5 linked regions of the Homo sapiens genome follow. The protein of the gene in region 3 purifies or fractionates together with the protein of the main gene of each other region. This does not show direct contact. Each region holds a gene or a part of one and is shown on either strand. Other genes may lie near its edges.

Region 1 (3,872 bases), on a different chromosome or scaffold from region 3:
AACGAAAACACTCACGTATGTTCACCCAAAGATACACACAGGAATGTTCATGGCAGTGCTAATCCAAATAATCCCAACTGGAACTCCCCACCCAAACCCCCATGATTGGAAGAAGGGAGACATAACTGGTGAATGAACACACAGCAGACCACATACAGCCAACTTGAAGGAAGAACACAGGTAGCAATAACACGGATGGGTCTCACACGTGCTGTGTGAAGGGGGCCAGAGAGAAAGGAGTATGTCATCCTATATGATTTCACTTAGGTGCCCTTAAACATGGACAAAACAAATCTATGCTGCTGGAAGTCAGGATAGCAGTAGGACACGTGGACGGGTGTTACTGACAAGAAGGGGACACCGGGGGCTTTGGTGCTGGTCGTGTCTGTTTCTGATCTGGGTTCTGGTGACCCAGATATGTTGGTTTGTGAACAGTCATTGACTGGTCCATGTAGAATGTCTGCTCTATTTCATGTTACACTTCAATGTGGTAAAACAAAAAACAAAAAACACCAAAACCAATAATCCAGGGACTCCTCTACAAAGCCCTTCCTATTTCCCTGGTCCTTGAGAGGGAATCACTTACAATATCAGCATACTGTAACCATTGGCTTAGAAGCGTCGCCCTCACTGGAGCTTAAAGATGGAACCAAACCCTGTTTCCATTTCGTTGCTCCCAACACCCAGAGGCACAGAATGGAAGCTCGACACAAGTTTGTTGAAAATGAGGAAGAGTGAAAAGGTGAGAGGAAGAGGAACCATAACATCTTGGAATTGTAGAGGCCCGGGACTAGAGGTTCACAGAATTCCAGAATTTGGGAATTCTGGGATTTCAGAGTCATGAGTTCTTTGAGTCTCAGAGCTAAAAGACTTTAGAGTTTATCTGGCCCCACTTTCCAGCCACACAGGAACCCTGGCCACAGCCTGGCTGCCCCAACATCCTGCATCCTGGTTCTGGTGGGCAGGGTCCAGCCACAAGCCTTATTCTCTGGGGCCCTTGCCGCATGCCCATTGCTGCACCAGCTCCTGCCAGGCGACAGGCAGCCCCCGGGGAGCAGGCTGGCACTCCTGACCAGGTGGGGGCGGCACCTTGACACAAATCATTTCTGCACCGAGGCTACGGCACCGGCTGCTGTGCTCCAAAGACACCACACTCCAACAGGCAGCCAGGCCATTACGGGGATAAATACAGATGCAGACAGCATGGCGAGGAGGCTGCAGCAGGGGTTGGCCCTGAGGCCCCCCTGGGGACCCCCAGCTTCCACCAGACCACATTCAGAGGGAGGTCATTCTCTGTAGTGCCCGCTTAATCACTAAGCTCTGGCTCTTAGGGGAGGTGGCTTCCCTTGGGACACCCCCACCCCCACCCTCCCAGGCCCCAGGTTCAGCTCATCCTGCACTGGAAGGTTTGTGTCACTTATAGGGGCTGACCTAGCAGGCTGAGAGGCAGCCTCCACTGTACTTCCTGTGAGTCTAGGGACTGGGTTTTGTCCTCTCCTGCCACTCCTCCCTCCTGGGCCTCAGCTCCTTCCCCTCCGGCCTCCCAGGAAGCTCCACATGGGGATAGGCACGGAGTGCTGTGGCTCTCCGGAGACTCTGAGTACTTAGGGGACCTTGGGAGTGGATCTGGCCAGGCTCAGAGGGCAGGGGACTCCCATGGAGGAGGGAATGGGGAAAGTTGTACGTCTGAGAGAAGGTGGATTTGCCTAGGACTGAAAGACTGGGGGCTGGGGAGGTGGAGGATGTGAGGTCCCCTGGGTGGGACGTCACCTGCTGCCACTGCCTGCCCACCCAAGGGACTGAGGTGTGCTGGAGAAAGTCACCCATTCCCTATGCAACCTGGGCCATGTGTCCTAACCTCTCTAGCCTCAGTTTCTTCATACAGGAAATGGAGCTGCTGCTAACTAGAGCTGTCCCCACTACTTTCTTCATGATGTTCTTAAGGCAGCAGTGAAAAGCTGGTACACTGAAGAGGGTTGTGCACAGATGTAATCCCTCTTTCACTTGGGACTTTGGGTCTCCACCTTCCAGGAGAGCTTCCCTCACCATGCAGCCATCCATTTGGTTGTTCAACAGATGTTTCTTAAGCAGTTCCTCTGGACCAGGGACTTTGCTGTGTGCTGGAGGGGCAACCATGATCAAGACACACTCAGGCTCTGGGCATAGGAGTTCGGGATGGAGTTGGGGGAACAGAGAGGTGAGCAAATGACAAGGGCAGGAAATCTCAGAGAGTGGAAAATGTCATAAAGAGAATAAAGCAGGGTGAAGTGATTGTGATAGGGCAGTGTGGAGGAGGCCACATTTGAGCTGGGATGTTAATAGACCAGGAGCCCCAGGAGAGCAAGGCATTGGTCTCTCTCGTTCATGGCTGTATCCCAGCCATAGCTGGTGCCCAGCAGGTACTCAGTGAATATTTTTGAATGAATGAATGAATGGGCTCCTGAACCAAGCTAGGCATGTCCCCACCACAGGGCCTTTGCATGCGCTGTTTCCTCTACCTGTTCCCCAGCATGTGTAAAGGCCCTGTGGTGTGGACATGCCTAGTGTGGTTCAGAAGCCCATTCTCCCTACAACTCTACTGTATCCCTGCAGGCTTTTGTGTCTTATCAGGAGCTGAGGATATCTGGCCTGCCTGATGTGCCCTGGCTGTCCCCTCTCTAAAACACAGGAGGGAATATGCCCAACTCCCAGCAGACAACTCCTGCAATCCCTCTTTCCTTTGGTTGGACCCCAAGTCTTTTTTTTTTTTTTTTTTTGAGACATGGTCTCACTGTTTCACCGAGGTTGGAGTACAGTGGCACAATCATGGCTCACTGCAGCCTCGACCTCCTGGGCTCAAGCAATCCTCCCACCTCAGTCTCCCAAGTAGTTGGGACTACAGGCATGCACCACAACACCCAGCTAATTTTGTTTATTTTTTATTTTGGTAAAGACGGGTTTTTGCCATGTTGCCCAGGCTGGTCTTGAACTCCTGGGCTCAAGTGGTCTGACTATCTTGGCCTCCCTCAGTACTGGGATTACAGGTGTGAGCCACCACGCCCGGCTCTCCCATCAGTCTTTCAGAGACATGCCCAACCTGAGAAAAGTGTATTGTAAGAGTGCAGTGAATGCTGGGAGCTGAGCTACTGGGTTTCAAACTCTGGTTGGCCATGGGCTAGTTGAGCACCACACACTGGATGGCTTAGATTCTCTCACAGTTCTGTAGGCTACAAGTTTGAAATCCAGCTGTCAGCAAGGCCATGCTCCTTCCAGCACTCAGTATGGTAAGCCAGAGATCCCTCCAGAGACTCAAGAGGGCAAGCTCGTAATTCTCCCAGGATCCATCACTCAACATCACAGACTCATTTAACAGGAGGCTGCAAAGAGGGGCAGGTGCAGTCATTCCTCACACAAGGATTTACTGAGCACCTACAATGTGCCAGGCACTGTTCTAAGTGCTGGGACATGGCCCTAAACAAGACAGACACTGTTTGCTCTTGCCTTTTTGTGGATCTGACACCCTTTGGGGAGGGAGGCAGATAAGCTGGTGCACCAATGAGTAAAGAAGATGGTTTTAAAGAGTGGCAAATGCCCCAAGAAAAATACAACCAGGAGATGCAGCAGTGAGGAGGGATGGTGACACAATCTCACTAGTCAGTCTCATTGCAGACCTCAGAGCAAGTGTGGCCAGATAAGTAAGAAATGTTCCATGGTCGGGCACAGTGGCTCATGCCTATAATCCCAGCACTTTGGGAGACCGAGGTGGGTGGATCACCTGAGGCCAGGAGTTCAAGGCCAGCCTAACCAACATAGCAAAACCCCGTCTCTACTAGAAATACAAAAATTAGCTAGGTGTGCACCTGTGATCCCAGTTACTTGGGAGGCTAAGGCAC
Region 2 (3,872 bases), on a different chromosome or scaffold from region 3:
GTCTTTTGTTGTGTGTCAGCCCCAACTTTTGTCTCAGCATTTGAACCATGCATACATCTTATCAAAAAAAAAAAAAAAAAACAGTATTTATTGTGGCCAAGTGAGGGAGAAAAGTAGAGGGACAAAAACTGGCAAAAACTTAGCCAGAGGTGGCCGGACACAGTGGCTAACACTTGTAATCCCAGAGCTTTGGGAGGCCGAGGCGGGCAGATCACCTGAGGTCAGGAGTTCGAGACCAGCCTGACCAACATGGAGAAACCCCGCCTCTACTAAAAATACAAAATTAGCTGGGCGTGGTGGCTCATGCCTGTAATCCCAGCTACTCTGGAGGCTGAGGCAGGAGAATCACTTGAACCCGGGAGCCGAAAGTTGCGATGAGCTAAGATCGCACCATTGCACTCCAGCCTGGGCAACAAGAGCAAAACTCTGTCTCAAAAAAAAAAAAAAAAAAAAAAAAACTTACCCAGAGCTAAGGAGACCTCCTTACTTCCCTGCCTTTCTGGATATTGCTACTAAAGTGTTTTTTTTGTTGTTGTTTTTCTGGATTTCATTGAGACGGGGTCTCACTCTATCATCCAGGCTGGAGTGCGTGATCATAGCTCACTGCAGCCTCGACCCCTTGAGCTCAAGCAATCCTCCCGCCTCACCTGCCACTAAAGATTTTAAAGCTGTGTTGTGTTTTCCACAAGTGTAGGCATAAATGGGATTCTCATATCCTGGTATCGTTCCTTGGACTGGAGGAAATTAGGAGCCAGACTTGAGCTATGGGCTGAAGGTACCCACTTTTATAGCTGAGAATAGGAACCTGGGTCCCCATCCTGGCTCTGCCACTGGGAATGTGACATTAGGGAAGTCATTTGCAGTCTCAGGGACTCAAGTTTCCCCTTCTTTAAAATAAAAGGGTTGGACCAGGTGATTAGGACCCTTTTATGACTCCTGCTCAAGAGTAGAGGTCTTGGGAAAACTGAGGCCCTGTGTTCTCTCGTTTGTGTTGTCTGGAATTCTGTATTTGGGACCTAAACACTGAACAGTGAACATGCTGGTGCAGGAAGGAACATGCCCCGAGCCCTTCTTTGAGCAAGGCTCAGAGCGGAGCTGATTTACTCACAGACCCTTTCTCCTCCCCCAGCTCTTCCTGCTGCCCACATTCCTGCACCCCCTCATGAGGGTAGTCCCAGAGACCAGGCGATGGCATCTGCACTATTCACAGCGGATTCCCAGGTGAGCTGTGGCCCCTCTGCTCTCCTGAGTCCTCAGTGTCTGCCTCTGTTCCTGAGCTCTCTTCATTATCTCCACAGGCCACTCTGGATGCCCCTGCTCTCAAAGAAGCCCCAACCCTGTCCTCTCCTTTTAGCATCTTTCTACCACAAACTCCCCTCCACCCCCAGGTTCTGGCCACCCTTTTCTTCCCAGCGTCCTGTAGCTTTGCAGCCACCTCTCTTCCTGACTCCAGGTTTGAGCAATGGGATTGTCCCTGAGTTTGGGGGGAAATGACTGTTTGTCTCGTGTTATTTTAGGCAATGGTGAAGATCGAGGACATGGCTGTGTCCCTCATTCTGGAGGAATGGGGATGTCAGAATCTGGCTCGGAGGAATCTCAGTAGGGACAACAGGCAGGAGAATTATGGGAGCGCATTTCCCCAGGGTAAGACGGATGCAGGCTTACTGTCTGATAAGATGGTTTTGTCTCTCTGTGTGTTAGCTGTGGGATCTCTGATGTGTTCAATTGAGTGTTGAGGAGTTAGAGACTACCTATCCCCTTTTGTAGACCAGATGGAAAGTGAGAATGTTTGTGTTCATTTAACTCCAGAAGCATGGTACTGTGACCCTGATTCCAGGTGGGTTTTTTATTGCTAAGTAGTTTTTGCTCTTTAAAATCAGAAATAATTGAGTTCCAAGTCCTCACCTCTTCAGCCACTCAGTTGCCTGGGAGGCAGTTCTGCTCCGTTCCCATGGATTACAATTTAGGTGCCTCTGTCGGGGGAATATCTTTCCTAGCAGAGATGACCAGGCGAACTGATCATCCGTCTAATCCCAACCCATTGTCCCGGTACCACATTCCCGAAACTACCAAGCATCCTTCTGTTGGCTTTCTGTCTTCTTCCATCCTGTGTGATTAGTGTGATTCCAATACACTGCTTTGTGTAATTCCACGAACTTGCACCTGGACTGTCCTTGTGATGAGGATTCCCAGCTTCCAAACTTAATGGTGATTTTCTATGAAGAGCTCTGGGTCCTGGATGTGTAGTAAGAACGAGGAAGTTCAAGAGGCATCAGCCAGATAAGACAAGGTGACACTGTTGGCAGACATTTCCATTTGTCTCTGCTGGATCTTAACCCCTCAGGACAGTGCTGCAAAGAAGCCCTCACGTGAGTACAGCAATAGGGAGGTCCACAGCAAGCTTCTACCTGGAGAGGGCAAAGGGAGTGTGAATAAAGCGTGAACATGAAGGATGTTACTAATGAAACATCAAGTTCTATTTTTGATCAGGCATAAATGGGGCTTATAATTTCTCTTGGTACTTGCTCTTTGTACTAGATGATTTTTTTTTTTTTTTTTTTTTTTTGAGACAGGGTCTTGCTGTTTCCCAGGCTGGCATGCAGTGCTGCGATCACAGCTCACTGCAGCCTCGACCTCTCAGGCTCAAGCAATCCTCCCACCTCAGCCTCCCAAGTAGCTGGGACTACAGGCATGCATCACCATGCCCAGCTAATTTTTACATGTTCTGTAGAGAAGAGGTTTCGCCATGTTGCCTAGGCTGGTCTCAAAACCCTTGGGCTAAAGTGATCCACCTGTCTCCACTTCCTGGAGTTCTGGGATTTAACAGGAGTGAGCCACTGCACCTGGTCTCCAGCATTGTTTTCTGTTTCTTTTTTGTTCTGAGTTATTCTGTGTCAGTCAGTGAAGGGTTTAATTATTTTTACTAATGTCGTAACCACTTTTTTCCACCTACTCCTCTGTTACTTGAGCACTGTCAGCTCTGTGTTCCTCTCCTTGTTGGATAGAAACTATTTCCTGTGTCTGAAGATTCCTGTAGCCTGCCAGGTTCAAAACAAGTTCCTTGACCAGGCACAATGGCTCACACCTGTAATCCCAACACTCGAGGAGGCTGTGGCAAGAGGATCGCTTGAAGCCAGGAGTTCAGGACCAGCATGGGCAATATAGCAAGACCACTGTCTCTACAAAAAAATTTAAAAATTAGCCAGGCGGGGTGGTGCAGGCCTATAGTCCCAGCTACTTGGGAGGCTGAGGCAGGAGGATCACTTGAGCCCAGGAGATCGAGGCTGCAGTGAGCTGTGCTCATGCCACTGTACTCCAGCCTGGCTGACAGAACAAGACCCTGTCTCAAAAACAAAAACAAAACAAAGTTTCTTGTTTGTTAATCATCAGCTTGTTGATAGAAAACTCACAGAATTGGAGAAATATTTACTATTCCTTTCTTTCTGCTAATACCACTAATCATTTTCTATGAAAGACCTGTTCTTTTTTTGAACTTATGAATAATGTTAGAAATGGAACATGATGTTTTAAATGTATACATAAACCTTCCAATTAATTATCAGGTGATCCAGTAGTAGACCTGTGACCTCTGAAGGCTCCTGCTTCTCATCCCTTCCCTTCTGCTGTGATTTGTTGTCTTCCCTCTGCTCATTCCCCTTGTGTCTGTTTCTTCCATCCTCTCCCCATGCTCCCTCTGTTGTCATTTCCCCTTACTCTCCACTCTTTGCCTGCGCTCTCATTTTCCAAATTTTTGTTGTTCCAAAACTAGGACAACAGATCTTCCTGTTGTCCCAGTTTTTCCCCTTGTTTTTCTCCTATTTTATGTCCAATTAATATTGTGAAGTCAGGCCGGGTGCAGTGGCTCATGCCTG
Region 3 (3,872 bases):
CTGACATACTCTTTCTGACGTTCAGACAAACCACCATTAGAGTAGCCACTGGTAAGAGAGTCGCATGAGAAACAAACCAAAAAACAAGACCAAAAAGTGAGGAATTAAACGGAGTAGACCCTATTGGTCTTTTCTCTAGGAAAAGCAGTCCTCCTTATGAAAGATGATACTACTTTCAAAATGGCCAATATGATACTAACCTTCAGTAACAGAGTTTTCACATCCCACAAGGTTGAGAAGGATATCATCATCTTTATCATCTACTTCACATCCCAGTAGCATCCAGCTTTCCACATTATCACCTTCTGAAATGGTGCTCTCTTCCTCTTCACTTGAACTGACCTCTATAATCATGACCTCTCGGATTACACCTGATCTCTCTTCAGATTTAGGCTTCTCAATATCACTCTTGCATTTCTTATCAACCAGCTCATTAGATTGAAGAGAAGAAGAAAGACCATGGGCATTTTCTTGTGCTTGAACTCTAACATTCTTTCCTTTACATCTATAAATACTGTCTTCATCAGACAAAGTGATGACCTCTGACCCATCTGACAGCTGGATGACCTCACTATCTGAAAGGACGATTAGCTTCTTCTGATTTGGTTTACTACTCGAAGATTCCGAATTCCCAGAGTTCTTTTCTTCATGCTCTTCCTCCCTGATGACATCATCAAGATCTTGGGCATAATGAATTTGGCTATAGAGTTGAAATTCCACCTCACTATCAACACTCAGTTCACTAGATGACTCATCTCGATAAAGATCATCTTCGTATGCTTCTATAGTCTCATAGCCACCAAACATCATAAAAAGTCAGTAACCTTGAAGCTGCAAAAGAGAAAGTTGTACACAGAATATACTTTAAAAGTTCAGATCATGCCAGTTTAAGTAACAATATCACCTGTCAGTGACAACTGCTAATATGAAGGCCATCACTATTCTCAGACATATTAAAATACCTTTTTTTCCAAGGATTTCTAAGTCCTGTTAGGACCCACTCCTGTAAGTCCCACCACTCCCCAACGAGAATTACTACTGACAAATTGAGTTATAGTTATTGATGGAAACACAGTCAACACTCTAAGAAATGCTTTGTTCTGTGATTTCATCGTGCAAACTTCATAGGATGATTTTCACAAACTAGATGGTGTAGTCAACTACACAACTAGGCTACATGGTATGGTCTATTGCTCCTAGGATACAAACCAATACAGCATGTAACGGTGCCAAATACTGTAAGTAACTGTAACACAATGGTATTTGGGTATCTAAACATACAAAAGATATAGCAAAAACGTATACAAATCCTATGGGACCACAGTCACACTGTCTGTCTTTAACCAAAATGCTATTATGCAGCACATGATATGTAAGATTTCACAGGTATATTGTAAACGAAAAACAAATTGAGATCTACCGCAGGATACAAAACCCTTGCTTTCCAAAATGTTAAAACAAAACTTAAAGCAGCTCTCACTATCCTATCCATTCTTCATCTTTTCCTTGGTTCTGGTTCTATAGCTCATATTTTCAAGCATATACAGGAATATTACTTCAATTATGACTAAAATCTATAACAGGAAACAATTTTGTTTACTGTTTGGGTGTAAATGTATATTCTCAATTAACAAATTAATCGCACGGCCCTCTGATCATTGGCCAAAAGAATAAATAAAAATGCCTGAGCTGGCAGTGGCTCATGCCTGTAATCCCAACACTTTGGGAGGCCAAGGCAGGAGGATCACGTTGAGGTTAGAAGTTTGAGAACAGCCTGGGCAACACAGTAAGACCCCATCTCCATAAAAATTAAAACTAAAAACTTAGCCAGGCATGGCAGTGCAAACCTGTAGTCCCAGCTACTACTCAGGAGGTTGAGGTGGGAGAACCGCTTGAGCTCAGGAGTTCAAAGTTACAGTGAGCTATGCTCATACCATTGTACTCCAGCCTGGGTGACAAAGCAAGAACCCAACTCAAAAATAAAACAAGGGTGGGCCAGTGCAGTGGCTCACGCCTGTAATCCCAGGACTTTGGGAGGCCAAGGCGGGTGGATCACTTGAGTCAGGAGTTCGAGACCAGCCTAGCCAAGATGGTGAAACTACATATCTGCTAAAAATAAAGAAATCAGCTGGGTGTGGTGGTGTGCGCCTATAATCCCAGCTACTCAGGAGGTGGAGGCACAAGAATAGCTTGAACCTGGGAGGCACAGGCTGCAGTGAGTCGAGATCATGCCACTGCACTTCACCCTGGGCAACAGAGCAGACTGTCTAAAAACTCTGTACTAGTTACAAAAATGTATATTTTTACAATGTATATTTATAATGTATAAATACAAACTTAATAATGACCCAATATTGAGACAAAACTCCCAGCTTTGGGAATAAATGTGTAAAGTGAAACACTTTACTTTCTACTGTGAGCATATTAAATCCTCCTCAGCCTTCATCTTTTAAACTCAGCTCAAAATCACTTGCAACCAGGCTAAATTAAGAGCCCCTTTTATGGGCTTCCATAAGTACTTTACATGTCAAAACACTCATCACATTTATAATTACTTATTCAATATAAATTTCCAAGAAACGCAGATCACAAATCCCAGGAGGGCAGGAACTATATGCACTCTGCTAAACAATGAATCACCAAAGCCAAACAGGGTAACTGGTATTTTCGGGGTCAGCTACAAACGTTTGCTGAATTCATAAATGAATAAATGAACTACACCATCGGGCATTTGTTCTTCAGCCCTGATAAATCTAGTATGTGCTTAAAATACAAAAATTATGAGATGAATTTCTCTGTTGTCTTTCGACTACTCCAAAGTCTTAAATTCTAGCATCAGCAACCAAAACTCTACACAGTAGATGTTTCCATTAGGTACTGATGGACTACTGATTAAAATGAGAGCCCTGAAAAAATAAGTGTGTGTCCAAAATCAGGGACAGCCTAAAGAGCAATAATGATGCCTATTTATTCTTTCTTCCACTAACAGCTATACACATAAAATAAAAAATAGTTGTTTTCTTAGTGTCCCAAATTTCTGCCCAAAAATACCAGGGTGTTGTGGTGGTAGTTCTGGTAATAGAACCACCTTAATCCCAAAAACCAAATGGACAAGAGCCAAAAATGTACTACATTCCTACTGGAGTTGTTTGTTTTCCAGAAACAAATAAACCCACCTGTAATGCTTTTCTTCTAAAGGGTATCATATACCTGTGCCCTTGTTGCACTGTCCTTCAGGTGGCTATGCTGTTACTGTCACACAAATTGAATGTGATTGTCTGAATAATGCTCACAGCATTCATCAGTTTATATTGAATTGTTAGCCTCAGAGGAATTCGAATAAAAGATGAATCCTTTCCTTTTTATTTAATAGGTAAATTAATTCTAAAAGAAGTCAAAGGAATTATGCTTCTTTCAAAATCCTCACTGGATCCATCCTGAGGATCCAGTGTGGACTTAAGACAAAACATAATTCCAGTGCAGCACAGAAAAAATTAAAAAGCCAAATTACAAAGTTACAAGTTTGTACTACTCTTGCAGCCATCCCAAAGGAAAGGGATTAAGAATAGAGCCATAGGCACACCTGTGAATGTATGCCAAAAATAAACTACAGAACCATAATAAAAACTGACTTCCTTGGGTCAAAGGATTTATCTCTTTCCCTGAAATGTAGAAAAATGAATTTAACAATTTAGCCCCTATGGCCTTTAAGAGGATTTTGTACCGTCTGTACTTGAAAATTGTGCTGGGCATAACGTGCTCTCTTATTTAGGTAGTTTATGTATGCCAGGGTTAAGGTCTGCCTAAGGTTGTTTTCGTTAATGTTACTGCTTTAATTACGTTCAAATGAATTTAATTTACCCTTTTAAAAA
Region 4 (3,872 bases), on a different chromosome or scaffold from region 3:
CCAGAAATGAGCAGTGGCAGGCTCCAGGCTCTCCCTACAGTCTACACTGGCCCTCAGGTAACAGAGGAAAAGATACTTAGTAGCCAATATGCGACAGTAACGAGGTCACTGGGACTAAGCAGTTACTGTAACTGCTCAACCTACTGTGTGGCCTCAGGACAGCCGCGCCTTAGTTCCTCTACTCCAAAGGTGGTCGCCTGGTCAGGATTCCCACCCACCTCCCCGCTGCCCCTTGGCACACACAGAGGAGCAGCAGACAACAGCGGCCTGGACTATGCCGCTGACCCACCTTGGGCTAATGACCTCACCTCTCCGCATCTCAGTTTCCTCACCTGTAAAATGTGAACAGCAACAGCATCTGCTGATGAGAGTGGCTGGGAGAGCTAAGTGCAATAAGGCCCGTAAGCATTTGAGAAAGTGGCCGGCCAGGGCTTGTCTCGTGCTAATGAGAAGAGCCAACAGCCCCTTCTGGAACCTGGGCCTGGAGGGAACCTCTGGTGCTGCCTGCTCGCTCTGGTCCACATGACAGTGACATGAGCATGTGCACTTCGTTAACTCTCACCAAGAGGTGCACCTGGTACATGTGCACTTTTCAGTGCATATATCATGTTTTAAAACTTGCCCCCAGCCTCAATCAAAAGCACCTGACAATGAGAAACATGTGAATGCCCCCTCCCCTATCACCACACAGGCAGGAGGAAGCTCCTGCCTTAACTTACATTCTGCTAAACACTATAAGGATGTGAATCACACACAAGTTGACACACAAATTTAAAAATGAAATGCTAGCCGGTCGCACAGGTGAGCTAAGAACTGTCATACAACAGGCAAGTACCTCATAGTCCCTGGGGGGCTTATAATCTTGAACTGACATAAACCTTAGCAAGTACACACCAGAAACAGTCTCATCTTCAAACTTCCCCCAAAGATAAAAGGCTTTTCATATATGTATATTTTTTGGAACCACGAAAGGAACAGCTAAGTTGTTCCTCTTTAACATAACATAGCAAATGGTAATCATAAAAACCATGGTTTAATCATTGAGCCACACTCTCCATAATGGGCAGCACCTGAATGTCAGTGTCCGGTTTCAGATGACTCTCCTTTCCTATTCATCCTAACACAAGTAGACACAATCATATATTTTCATTCCAAGAACAGTTTAATGGGCTCACAAGTCCCAAAAGTTCAGACTGTCACTAAACATGTTCTCAGTTGGTGATCACGACTATGAAACAAAAACATAAAACACATGTCTATACCAGAAGCAGATTAATCTTCAAAACTGTAGCCAATAACTGTGTAAAATACCACAAGCTCGTGACGCAGGCGTATCCTGTGACCACCTGGGATGTGACAAGGCTCCTGCCCGGTCAGAGGGGCCAAAGCCAGGCACTCACCGTAGCCTTGTCAAGGACTTTGATGGAACACGGCTCAGCCACGTTGTGCTTCCGCAGGGCTTGCTCCAGCAGCTGTAAAGGAGGACGCTCCCATTTCCCGAAGACCACCAGGTCTATGTCGCTGACAGAAGAAAACGCACGTCAGCCACTGCTCCCCTCGCCACAGCCTACACACTCGTGTGGGGAGGATAAGCACCAAGGCACATGTGCCTGTGTCTCCCACAAAGGCCAAGACACAATCCCACTAGCCTATGGCCCCTAAGGAGGTGAAGTGCAGTTCATGAACTACAGCAAGTCCTCGCTGAACTTAAGGGAAGACTTCCATATTTGTAGCATAAGATGGAAAGCAAGAAGGTTAAATCATTCTCCCAACAGCACTAGGTATGTGAGGGGATTCAAATGAAAATGCCTGCCCCCAAACCAGGCTGAGGCCCCGCTCTCCCAGCACCTACTCCGGCACTGCCTACGCTGGATCACTCCTGCGGACCCAGAGATTCCTGGATACCCAAACCTGTTCAATTACCCACTGGCCCTGCTAATGTCAACCCCCAAATCCTGAGATTATAGCCTCTTCGGCCTCCAAATGCTAACTAGCAGTGGGTTAATAGAAGGTAAGCTTTTAATGAGACAGTGCACAGGAAATTTATTTGGCTATCAAGAATCCTTAATGAGAAAATACTAGTTTGTATTTTAGAATGCAAACTTGTTTGACATTTTCCTATCAGGTAAAAATACTTAGAAAATACTATTTAAAGAGAATTTTGCTTGAATCTTCATCAAAACATAAGATCAATTTTTCAAACACATGTCCTAAAATATCAGCAGAATGTCTTCTATTGCGTTTACTTCCCACAGTCCTCCCACCTGTCTTCTTCATATTTCCAGCATGAAGCATTTTTGCACCCCAACAAATTAAGTGTGAGAGGAAAAATGCAAAGCAATGAATTCATCATAACACTAAATTAAATCTTTCTGCCAATTTCCCTCTGTAACCACAGTCTTTTCCTTTAGCTGGCATTTCTCGCCTTAGACTCAATTACAAAGAATCTATTTGTAGCCCTTAATATTGCATAGACACCATCCCAGCCCCCCACTAGCCCATGCCATGCAGTCTGGTACTCACCTAGTTGGAAGATAAAGACCTGTACTAAAGCTGCCAAATATCTGTACCTGAAAGAAAGAGTGGTTGCCTTAAAATGTATACCACAAACCAAGCAGTCACACTACCATTATTTCTTACTAAAAGAAAGCCCTCACTATACCCTTGGGTAAAAAATAAAACTACCTTGGAAACTGATGGAGGGGACCGTATAACAATCAACCAGAAAATTCCCTTTAAGTTAAAGACATGCCCAAAAAAGGAATGTTTAAAAACTCAAAATTAAGAGGTGAAACAAGTTTTGTCCTCACCCTATAACCCTTCAAAGCTGAGGACTTTTCAGAGCTAGCTTCAAACCCTTCAACCTCTTCTTAAACCCACAGCTAAGGCACTGGGGCAGGGCTTTGTCCTAGGACTCTGAAGTTTAAAGCCAAAAATCTGTATCATTTTAAAAGAGGCGCAGAAAACTGGGTTGCCCTTGCCCACCAAGAGCACACATGCCCCTCACAGCTGGGGCACGGCCAGCCCTGCTGGTCCACTGAGCCCAGTCAGCAGTAGGGAAGGCTGCTGAATAGAGCCGGCCAGGGGCAGGCTTCACGCCACCTGCACCAAGCATTCCAGAAGGCCCCACTCCACATGTCAAAAAACACTTGTTCCTTCACTGCAAGAGTGGTGTGTGATGAGGGAACACTTCCAAGTTTTACAAAAATGAGCACATTATATGCTACTATGTGTGGTGGTGGGGAAGCAGGGGTGGGTGACAGGGTGAAATTTCTAAATTTTAAGGTGAACTTAAGAGAAACAATCACACCATTCTCCCCCTTCCAAAAAAAAAAAAAAAAAACCCAACAAATCCCTCAGCCGATGGTCTTCGCACTTGAGTGCGCGCCAGCATCACGAAGATGTGCGGCCACCGCAGGTGTCTAAGACAGCAGGTGCAGGTGCGCCGGGGGCCATGCATTCCAGGCAACGGAGGCCTTCTCAAAGCACACTTGGAGAACTGCTGCCTCGGGCCAACGAGAAAAGGTCTGTGTGGATCTAGCCGACACATCATCATCACAGGGTATTTAAATTTACTCGCACGTGACGTGCGACACAGAACTCCAAAGAACATACTCACATCAGCCGTCGGCCAAAGGTCTTTCACCACAGTTTCGATCCGTTTCACCACCTCTCTTCTCATAGCTGCTTCTTCAGGACAAGGGGACATGAAGTTATAAAAGTCAATTATTTCCTCATGTAGTCTAATGGACAAAAAAGAAAACATACTAGAGTTACAATGAAATGTCACCACATTTTCTGTTCTGTTCTTACATCAGGATGACGCTCAAACATATTTCTGGCCACGAAATTCAGTTTCATTTCTCCTCTGA
Region 5 (3,872 bases), on a different chromosome or scaffold from region 3:
TTTTTCGATTCTCTTCTCCAGTTTCTACCCCAAGTTATACTTGTGTCCCACAAATTTATCTTCTGCTCATCTTCTCATTCTCTTTTCATATTTCAGATCTTTTTAAGTCTCCTTAACTAACGTCTCTGGTTTCTTTTTGGTAAAAAACTTATTCCAACTGTAACTAAAAATCAATTTCATTAATGTCCAGTTTTATCATTGCTTTTTAACCATTAAGTACACACATACAATATAGATGTAACAATCTTTTTACTCTCTTACAGTCATATTGCAGTTTCACAGTGGTATAAACTCCAATAAAATTAAGAATTTTTTTTCAGTACATGAGATCAAACTGTATACAGAGCTGCCATAACGTATAAGTTAAGCCATGTATATACATTAATACATACATATATGTTCCAATAACATGTTGAAGATTTCCCAGGTTTTTTTTTCTTTAAGTTATTGCTAGACATATCAAAACACAGTATAAAACTGGTCATCACAACACCCTTCTGCAGTAATGATGAGAGTGGGCTAGGAATGTGATGAAAGGCACAGAATTCATAAGACTTGAGTAAGTAGATCCAAATTTGTTATCACTAATGGCTCAAACAATGTGGAGCCACTGATTTTCTGAAGTGAATATAAGAAACAGTAGTTAATAGTATTTATCCAGGCTTCTAGTATAAGACATTGTACTAGGAGTTTCTCAAGTAGAAAACTTGTCTCACAAGGGTAAGTTACATAAAAACTCCAAAGAAGAAAGGGCAACTGATAGAAGATTAGTTCTCCTGTGGCTAGACGGTGCGTTGTACAGCCTTTCCGTTTAGTGAGGTTCTACTAAAGGGAATGCCAACTTTGTGGTTGACATGGGTGATCCTTGGGTTTCGTCACGCATGAAATTAACAAATAAAAAATGTTCAAGGCCAGGTGTGGTGGCTGATGCCTGTAATCCCAATGCTTTGGAGTCTGAGGTGGAAGGATTGCTTGAGGCCACAAATTTGAGACCAGCCTGGGCGAAAGAGCGCAACCCTGTCTCTACCAAAAAAAAACAACAACAAAAAACTTAGCTGAGTGTGGTGGTACCAGCCTGTTGGGAGGCTGCAGTGAGAGGACCATTCGAGCCCAGGAATTTGAGGAAGCTATGCTCATACCACTTGCACTCCAAGACCCCATCTCAAAAAAAGAAAGAAAAAAGAAAAAAAAAGTTTTCAGTTTATGGAATTAAGCAATTAAGCATATTAAAAAGCCAGGGCCTAATAAGTACTATGCTGATCAAGTGCAAAGGAGAGTTCTTAATATGAATAAATGGGTCTTACAAGTCAATTAATTCAAGAGGTTATAAAATACATTTTTTAAAAGAGTTAAGCTTATTTTTCATACAAAGAAAAAATTCCAATCACCCATTGACAATACCCCAATCAGCCAACAGCCCATCAATGCAGAGTCTGCTGCAGTTGTCTGGAAGTTTTCACTTTCTTCTTCCAGAAAAAATGCTCAATTTTCATTGCCAACGTTCTTGGTAGATTCACTCTTCACTAGAAAAAAATAAGTAAACATACAGTCAAGTGTTTATATTTTTCTGTTTAGGTTGCTCTGTCCCTCTTCTCTCCCTCCTTCTGATGTACAGCAAAAGCACTGCTCACAGGGACACACAAACCGCGTCATGTCCCAGGCAGCTAGGATATACAATTCTGGCCACAATAAATAGAGAAATGATGTCTGAAAGTGGCAATTATATTTTGTGAGGTAACATCCTTCCTGACTCTGTGGAAGACTTAGGAATGGTCACTTCACAATGTGGTTATGATCCATATTCATGCCACTGAATAGATCACTATTATCCTGGCCAGCCACTTGTGGTTAGAATAAATTTTTTCCATGATTTTTTTTTAAACTTAATTGAGGGTCAGTATATGTTGAGTGAATGTGGAGTGACAGAAGACTAGCTAATCGCCATCTCCTTCCTTTCACAGGAAAGAAGAATAGAAATGGAGCTCCTCTGACACCCCTGTCTTGCTTAGAGCAAGCAAGACTAACTATGACTCACTCACTAAACTGAGAGTTCCTGGAGGACAGAAACTCGACCTTTCTTCTCTGTATCTATCCTCACAATTTAGAGTATGTTTGCTGAATCAATGTAACTGCAAATCATTCTGCCTTTTAGTGTTTTTTCCCTAAATCTGCAAAATGGGAACCGGAGTAAGTGTTCTATTTCATGGTCTTGTGAAGCTAAAAGGAAATAATAGGTAGTAACTCTTTAAAAATTGTCATGCTAAAATATAGGTTATTTTGAGGCTTATAGCTGTTATCTCCACTGAGTAGATAAGAAAAATAAAGCTCAGAGAGGCAGAGCAAATGCTCAAGGGACCACAGCTTATAAAAGCTGATGCTAGAAGCACACACCTGGAACTGCCTCATATTCCAACTGACAAGTTCCCTGGGGTTTGCTGTTGTACCTAGACTTCAGATTGTACCAGCAACCACAATGGTGTTTACTGAGCCCTTTCTAAGAGTAAGGCACTGAAATAAGTTCCATCCAAGATATCATCCCAATCTTTGTGAAATTTTATGAACTTTAGCAGTCCATCCAGTGCCTCCATGATATTAAAAGTTTTTTTCCTTCTCTGGCTGTCTCTGTACTTCAGGTAAACTCTATTTTAGCATCTATTGTATAATAAGTTTTACATGCGTGTTCCAGTGCCAAAAATCCTCCTCTCTCTCCCTGCAAAAGGAAAAGAAAGAAAAGAGAAGTAAGGAAGAATGAGGAAAGGTGAGCGAGGGAGAATGGATGAAAGATTTACTGGCCCAATAAGAGACTGATATATGAGTAGCTGCTATGCCAGGTATTTTCACTAATTCCAGTAATCAATTTTGGGTTGGATTCCTTCTCTAAAGGCTGAGGCATTTTCTAATCTTGAGTTACACTAGAACATCAAAAAGTTTATTTTGCTGACATTTCTAAATTAATAAAGATTTTTAGCAGTATGGGACATTTTCCCCTTTCTTTGCCTATTGAAGGTGCCCAGTTTTCTTCTTTGAATAGGGTTCCATTCTTTTTTCCTTAGATTGAAATGCAGCATGCTTTTCTCCCTCATCTAAATCTGCTAGTCTAATAACAGCCTGTGAAGCAAGTTACACCATTCTGAGCACTTCCCACTGGACTGATATAAGGTAGGTAATCAGCACTTAGCATCTCCAATCTAGTGGAGTATCTAAATAGCTCTATCTTTTCCAGTTAACCTTTTCCATTACTGAAAAGCAACAAACAAACAAAATCTTGGCTACTGCTGATTAATATAGGCAGACTCAAATAATTATGGCAATCTACAATCATAACAAATATTAGAACAACCATCAGGTGTGGGAACTACTGAATCCCAGACCAGAAACACATGTACCCCCAAATTAGGAAAGAGACAACTTGTACTATAAACTCAGGATCAAAATCCAACTTTTTTACCTCCAGAGAGGGAAGGAATTTCAAGGCTTTCCAAAGAAAATGCCCTCTTCTTACATAATCCCCTTCCCTCATCAAGGTATCACCCTGCAAAATATCTGATGCTGTGAGAATGTATAAAGAAACAGACACCTTGAAGTACTTACAGAAAGAAATGCATGTACAGGAAGACCTGGGCATTACTTTTAAGGTGTGTGTACTTACGATGTGACAAAACTGGTATGGTTTTAAAATCCTGTCAGATACTTTTAGTTCTTTGCTAACACAGTTCTAAATAATCCTCTGTACTAAAAGCATGAGTCATTTGTGTTCCTGTAAATAAGTCAAACATCATATATCCACCAGAAAAATAGCAAATTTTACTCAATAAGGCTCCCAGTACGCTAGTAAAGTAGTCTTTTCTTATTGCTTCATTACAGGAAGCCTT

What was found.
Region 1: the proteins of ZCCHC7 (region 3) and CPNE2 purify together in Homo sapiens (affinity purification with mass spectrometry; one large-scale study listed by BioGRID and IntAct). This does not show direct contact.
Region 2: the proteins of ZCCHC7 (region 3) and ZKSCAN1 purify together in Homo sapiens (affinity purification with mass spectrometry; one large-scale study listed by BioGRID and IntAct). This does not show direct contact.
Region 4: the proteins of ZCCHC7 (region 3) and TENT4A purify together in Homo sapiens (affinity purification with western blotting; one study listed by BioGRID). This does not show direct contact.
Region 5: the proteins of ZCCHC7 (region 3) and ZNHIT6 purify together in Homo sapiens (affinity purification with mass spectrometry, with the first as the bait; one large-scale study listed by BioGRID). This does not show direct contact.

What each region holds. Positions count from the first base shown.
Region 1 is NC_000016.10:57,095,583-57,099,454, reverse strand, and holds part of CPNE2 (copine-2), read right to left. Parts: intron 1-3,872.
Region 2 is NC_000007.14:100,028,732-100,032,603, forward strand, and holds part of ZKSCAN1 (zinc finger protein with KRAB and SCAN domains 1), read left to right. Parts: intron 1-1,129; coding exon 1,130-1,221; intron 1,222-1,517; coding exon 1,518-1,644; coding exon of another isoform or gene 1,645-1,736; exon of another isoform or gene 1,737-2,119; coding exon of another isoform or gene 2,120-2,124; exon of another isoform or gene 2,125-2,467; intron 2,468-3,872. UniProt on the Homo sapiens protein: May be involved in transcriptional regulation.
Region 3 is NC_000009.12:37,123,271-37,127,142, reverse strand, and holds part of ZCCHC7 (zinc finger CCHC domain-containing protein 7), read right to left. Parts: intron 832-3,872; 5' UTR 811-831; coding exon 201-810; intron 1-200.
Region 4 is NC_000005.10:6,737,381-6,741,252, reverse strand, and holds part of TENT4A (terminal nucleotidyltransferase 4A), read right to left. Parts: exon of another isoform or gene 3,814-3,872; intron 3,744-3,813; coding exon 3,620-3,743; intron 2,571-3,619; coding exon 2,524-2,570; intron 1,522-2,523; coding exon 1,401-1,521; intron 1-1,400. UniProt on the Homo sapiens protein: Terminal nucleotidyltransferase that catalyzes preferentially the transfer of ATP and GTP on RNA 3' poly(A) tail creating a heterogeneous 3' poly(A) tail leading to mRNAs stabilization by protecting mRNAs from active deadenylation.
Region 5 is NC_000001.11:85,652,576-85,656,447, forward strand, and holds part of ZNHIT6 (box C/D snoRNA protein 1), read right to left. Parts: intron 1,524-3,872; coding exon 1,483-1,523; 3' UTR 1-1,482. UniProt on the Homo sapiens protein: Required for box C/D snoRNAs accumulation involved in snoRNA processing, snoRNA transport to the nucleolus and ribosome biogenesis.